Regions from separate parts of the Homo sapiens genome. Here region 1 is linked to region 2. Evidence: fine-mapped expression QTL. A gene starts in region 2. The other region holds a variant in brackets. All regions are shown on one strand. Distances are from middle to middle. Region 1 overlaps CNN3-DT (CNN3 divergent transcript). Region 2 holds the start of TLCD4 (TLC domain containing 4).

Region 1 (2,908 bases), 170 kb before region 2:
CCTCATTAATGAATGGGATTAGTGCCCTTATAAGAAGAGATCAGAGAGCTAGCTTGCTCTCTCTACTCCATGTGAGGATACAAAAATAAGTCATCAGTCTGCGAGCCAGAAAGAGGGTCCTCACCAGAACCCAACCATCCTAAGCTTGAACTTTCAGCCTCTAGAACTGTGAGAAATAAATTTCTGTTGCTTATAAGCACCCAGTCTATGTTATTTTGTTAAAACAGGAAGGTGACGAAGACACCTTCCTTTTTTCTCAAACTCTCTCCTAGCTACTAAACAGATCTCATATAAACACACTAATTATGTCTGTTTTGCGGATCTAGCAGGAAAACACAGCTCCGAATACTAAAGAGCCTTTCTTCTTTATTTGTGACTGTCATCTTCTCTGACAGACCAAGCAGCTTTGGAAGATCTGTGTGGGAAAACAAGGTCACCACCTAGCCAGCCAGTCTATCTTCACACTCACAGGAGACTTTATTAATTGACAGAGAGATGTCAGTTTCTCTTCCAATTTCTGAAATTTCCTTTTCACTCACTATTCCATTTAATGCATAGGCTTGGCTTTTACACATTATACATAATTTCCTTCTAAAATAATTACACAAATACCTCTAAGAATGGTGGGTCTCAATATAGAAGCATGGTCAATAAAGTAGATGACCCTCCGCTGAAAATGACCCCCCGCTGAAAATGACCCCCCAACTTTACCCCCACCCACAGTAGCCCCCGTAGCTAGGCTTGTATTCTTTTACCCTCCCCTCTAAGTTTAGCTGATTAGAAGTCTGAAGATGCCCCAATCGATCCTCTTACCTGGGTATTTGAAGTTGAATTTCTTGTTTGGTCACTTAAACTGAGGTCTTATAAATTTAGAGCAATCTTATACGTAGAAAAACAGAGAAAGCAGGTTTAAAAGTTAGGTTGCAGGTTCTGGCTTCCTCAATAAAATCCCAATATAATACTAGCTCAAATGAGATCTATGTTTCCCTCTTATATAAGAGTCTGAGGCTAAGCAGTTGGGTCAGGGCTAATAATCACATTAGCTCCATGGAGTTGGGGACCCAGGCTCCTTTCACCTTGTTGCTCTGCCATTCTCCACCTGTAATTCTATTGCTAGGTTAAAGACAATTACTTCAACTCCTGCCATCTTATTCACACCCAGGCAGCAAGGAGGGAAAAAGAGGAAAGGAGGCGCCCATTCCTTTCTATTTAAGAGTGTAACCTGGAAGTTGTACATATCATTTCTGCCCATATC[A/G]CATTGGCTAAAGCCTAGTAAATGCCTACAATTAACAGCAAGGGAAGCTTGGAAGTGCATCTGTCAGCTGAGTGGCCAAGTGTTCAGCTAAAACTCTCTTTTCAGAGAAAAAGGGGAACAGTGACATCATAGGTACAACAAGCAGCCTCTGCTCATCTCCACAGATAAAACTGATCTCCAGGAAGTGAGCACGAAGTTGAGGCTCAGAATAAAAGCAGCTGTGAGAGACTTGGGGCCTCCAAGAGACAAGGAGAGCAACACTGGTTCCTGTTAGCATCCAGTTCTTGGGTTTTATCCCTCATTGAGACGCAGAAGCTTTCCTTCCCTTGTGTATAATAAATTCCTGGCTTTGCATAAGCCAGCCCAAGTGGCCTTCTGTTCCCTGATACCAAAACGTCTTGTCTAATACAAACTCATTATATGCTCCTGGAGGGCAAGGGTCACATTTTACTTTTTTATTCCCGACCCAGGGTTTAGGTAGTACCAATGCTCAGTAAATAAATACTGATTTGACTTAATGTATTGCCTCCTTCTGCAGCTGGATGCATTTGCTATCTGTCTCCATCATTTTTTGCCAGTTATAGAATGTAGGCCTCCAAATTCCCTCAAAAAAACAGAGAAGGTGGAGTCATGAGGAGATCAAGAAATGTCTTAATTTGAGAACTGAAGAGGAAAATACTAACAGTTTTGGCACAGCTCTTCCCTGAAATCTGTCAGCACTAAGGGAAGGGCCAGCAGCAATAATACAGCAGCAGTCTTCATGGCACTGTCAGGCAAATCAGGAGGGCTACAAGGGCCTGCTTCTCTCCCCTGTGTGGACAAATGCTTGTGGCTGTGAGTTAAATACCAACGCAATCAGCTCACTCTCAAATGAAACTGCTCTGGCCCAGACTTGGAGAACAGTCTTGCATGAAACTTTTTTTTCCAGTGTTTTAAATTTAACCAGCTGGAAAGAAGTATCATTTTATTAAATCTTTTTGGCCGGGCATGGTGGCTCACGCCTGTAATCCCAGCACTTTGGGAGGCCAAGGCAGGCAGATCACCTGAACTCAGGAGTTCAAGACCAGGCTGGCCAACATGGCAAAACCCCGTCTCTACCAAAAATACAAAAATTAGCCAGGCGTGGTGGTGTGCACCTGTAATCCCAGCTACTCAGGAGACTGAGGCAGGGAGAATTGCTTGAAACCAGGAGTCAGGGGTTGCAGTGAGCTAAGATTGCGCCACTGTGCCTGGGTGACAGAGCAAGACTCTGTCTCAAAAAAAAAAAAATCTTTATAAAATGAAAGATTTGCTTTTTTTTTTTTTTTCTAGACGGAGGCTCGCTCTGTTGCCCATGCTGGAGTGCAGTGGCACGATCTCGGCTCACTGCAAGCTCTGCCTCTCAGGTTCATGCCATTCTCCTGCCTCAGCCTCCCAAGTAGCTGGGACTACAGGTGCCCGCCACCACACCCGACTTATTTTTTGTATTTTTAGTAGAGACGGGGTTTTACCATGTTAGCCAGGATGGTCTCGATCTTCTGACCTCATGATCCGCCCACCTCGGCCTCCCAAAGTGCAGGGATTACAGGCGTGAGCCACCAAGCCCAGCCTGAAAGATTTGCTTTTTTAATGGGAAATCTGCATTCTATCAAAGGGATAAAAAATAATGCTCGA
Region 2 (2,908 bases):
GAAGAAATTGAGCCTCAGTGAGGTTCAGTTAGCTAAAGGCACACAACTCTAATAAACTGACAGAATTCCAGGTTCTGATTTAAATTCTATTGCCCTCTCTTGAAAATAAACATGGACAGCTTATATGAGCTTTTGTGTATATATTTTCTGGTCTAAATCTGCGGCAGATATGTGTGTCTTTCTGCGCATGTATATAGTAGATCAAATATGTTAGCTCTATTGACATTTCTTAGAAATAAATATCCTGTTATCAATGATAGTGTTTACAAATTATTTATTTAGAACTTACCTCTTTTCAAGAAAAGGCCTTGTGATTGCTCTCTGCGAATTATAATGCATGAGTATACCTCTTTGTTATTTTGTTTTGTTTCAGACAATTATCTCTGGTTGATGCAGATCACTTGGAGGCTTTTGGGGCTGTATATAACAGGTCAGAACATCTATTTAATGTCAAACTTTATCTACTAGGCAACTTGGAATTCTCAGCCAGCACCAAATATTCAAATCCAACTTCCACACCCCGACAACAGAGGGGTTCCGGGTGTAGGTGTAGTGCTGGTGCACCCATGAGGGTGTTTTTCAGGAATTCTGGAGGTGGTGCTGGAGAGAACACGCTTCTTCTACACGCGCCCCCTACCAGTTTGGTATGCACCTGCAGCCCCAAAGAAGAACTGGCGGGACTCGAGTGTGGCCGTGTCAGACGTGGCAAGAAAAACCAGCAGTTGCCTTTTCATCTCTTTTCTGATGATCTAACCATGAAGTCCCCAGTATTTGAGCATTTAAGGCAGAATGTAAATTCATAATTTAAGAAGATTTTTTGTTACGTGGCTAGCCCAGGTACTGACCGCTGCGGGGGCGGGCTCACACAGTTCCCCCGCTGGCAAGTTTTGTGACTTGCTTTGGAAAACCCGGGAATTGCACCCTCTGCCCTTGGCAAGGTGTGAGCTTCCAGGATCTCTCCGCTGCGACTTCGGGTGTTAGGGTTTTTGGGCTCTTTCCGGGACCCAAGTTCCAGGGCAAGAAGGTCTGCTCGGCGGCCCGCCTCGGGGCCCCGCCCACTTTGGCCAGGGTCGGAGCCGCCCGGAGCGGGAGCCGGAGCCCGAGCGGCCGCGGCCCCTTTAAGGAGCAGCTCTGCGGTAACCCGAGCCCGCAGTCCGGGCGGGCGCGACGGCCGCCGCGGTAGCTGGAGCCTCCGCGACTGCACCTCCAAGCGGCCCGGAACCCGCGGCTTCCCTGGCTCCCGTGAGCATCTCACCGGGCGGCACTGGCCAGCGCCAGCCCTCGGGCCGGCCCGGATGAGCAGACTCCTGTAGACACCCGCCGCCCTCTCCCGGCTCGGCGCAGCCGCCGCCCGCGCGCGACTCGCCCCGGGACCCGGCACAGGTGACGCCGTTTGGAGGGGGGGTTGGGGAGGAAGGCGGGCTTGCCTCGCCCCGCGGCTCCCCCGCGCCAGCCGCCAAGCGCAGCCCGCGGAGAGGGGTGCCGCGGCTTCCCGCCCCTGGCCTAGCGCGGCCGAGAGCTCCTGCGCCTGGAGGCTGGGTGGGCGTCCGGCGCGCGGGAGGCGGCCCGGGGCTCCCGGGCGGGCTCCGGCAGGTGTGTGCGGAAGGCTCAGCATCGTCCCCGCCCGGCGGGCCACGGCGTCGCTCCGGGAGCAAATGGTGTCCCGGGGCCCGCGGCCCCCGCGCCGCCCGGGCGCCCCGCATTCCTCTCGCGTTTCTCGGGCTGCACGATTCCGGCTGCCCTGTCTGCCTGGCGGTGCCTCTCGGGTCTGAGCTTAAAGCGGGTGGGTGCAAACCTTTGGGCATCCAGGGAGAGCTTTCTTGTTAGAGCCCACACACAATCGGGCGCATCAAGTGGGTAAGTCCCCCTCCCCCGCCGCCACCTTCTGAAACAAGTAGCTCTTATTTACCCTTGCAGTTCTCAAGTGGGTCCCATTTTTAGCCACTGAGTGCTGAAAAGTCTAGTGGGAAGGGACCAGGCGTAGAGTCGGAGGGAGAAATTGGTTTCTATTTCCATCTTTACCTCTGTAACCCCTAAGTGCCTCGGTTTACCCAGCCATGAAATGGGATTCGTAATGCCAGCAGTTTCCTACCCCTCCAAGACGGCAGAAAAACCTCTGTGAAAACACTTTGAGTCTAAATTCATTTAAGAGTCGCTGTTGCTGGTCTGTATATTTTTAATTGTACACACATTTGAGTGTTAATGTGGTGCACACTTTTATATGAAATTATGAAATTTACTTTAAAGACTGATCTTGGATAATGTTTAATCCAAATACCAGTTTGGAGAAGATGGAAGAGTTTGTGTGGACCCTAGGAATTGATGTGTGAAATAGGAAAAAAGATTTAATAAAATCTTTACGCAGTCATAAATGGAGTTGAGAAAAATTGACCTTGGATTGTGGTGTTTTAAGTGAGTTACTCCCGTGCCAGCGCATGGTGTCGATTGAAATGTAGCTTCATCTTTGTGTAGCCGATTAAGGTAATAAGTTAGAGAATCCCAGCTCCCTTTTAATTGTGCTATATATGAGGAATTTTTATCCTTGCTTATCTTTTCCTTAAATTGGGCGAAACGAAATTAGAAAAGTGTATTCCCGCCGTGTTAGAAAATATGAAAGAATGGGTGAAGAACCATGGATTTTAGTTTATTTGCCACGCCCCTCCTGTGCCATCTGATAACCCAGAGAATATTTTGAGGGTGCTTCTTTTTTTTTCTACGCCTGCAACTCCTTTTGTCCCATTACCTCCCTCTGGAGTTTGAATCTTTACTGTCCTCATCCTTGAGATGAATTTTATCTGTTTAGGCTGGATGCCTCTGACCCAGCTGCCCAATCAGTCATTATTTATTTACAGTATTAGATTTCCATTTATATTCATTTCACTCTAAGCCTTCTTTACCCTGGTGGAAA

Evidence for each region. PIP is the estimated chance that this variant, and not a neighbour inherited with it, causes the effect. A credible set is the group of variants that fine-mapping cannot tell apart.
Region 1: its variant is the best candidate, but not a certain one, in a credible set for the expression of TLCD4 in left ventricle (GTEx, PIP 0.77).

Annotation. Positions count from the first base shown.
Region 1 is chr1:94,945,603-94,948,510 of GRCh38, forward strand. All of the region lies in intron 2 of CNN3-DT (CNN3 divergent transcript), which reads left to right. Among named protein-coding and RNA genes, the nearest start is that of CNN3, 20 kb to the left of the region's middle. The variant A/G (reference allele first, on the strand shown) is at 1,256.
Region 2 is chr1:95,116,235-95,119,142 of GRCh38, forward strand. It overlaps TLCD4 (TLC domain containing 4), which reads left to right and starts at 1,121. Exons shown (of 7, transcript NM_152487.3): 1 at 1,121-1,383. It overlaps TLCD4-RWDD3 (TLCD4-RWDD3 readthrough), which reads left to right and starts at 1,689. Exons shown (of 8, transcript NM_001199691.1): 1 at 1,689-1,857. RefSeq lists silencers at 1,128-1,274, 1,202-1,481, 1,562-1,611.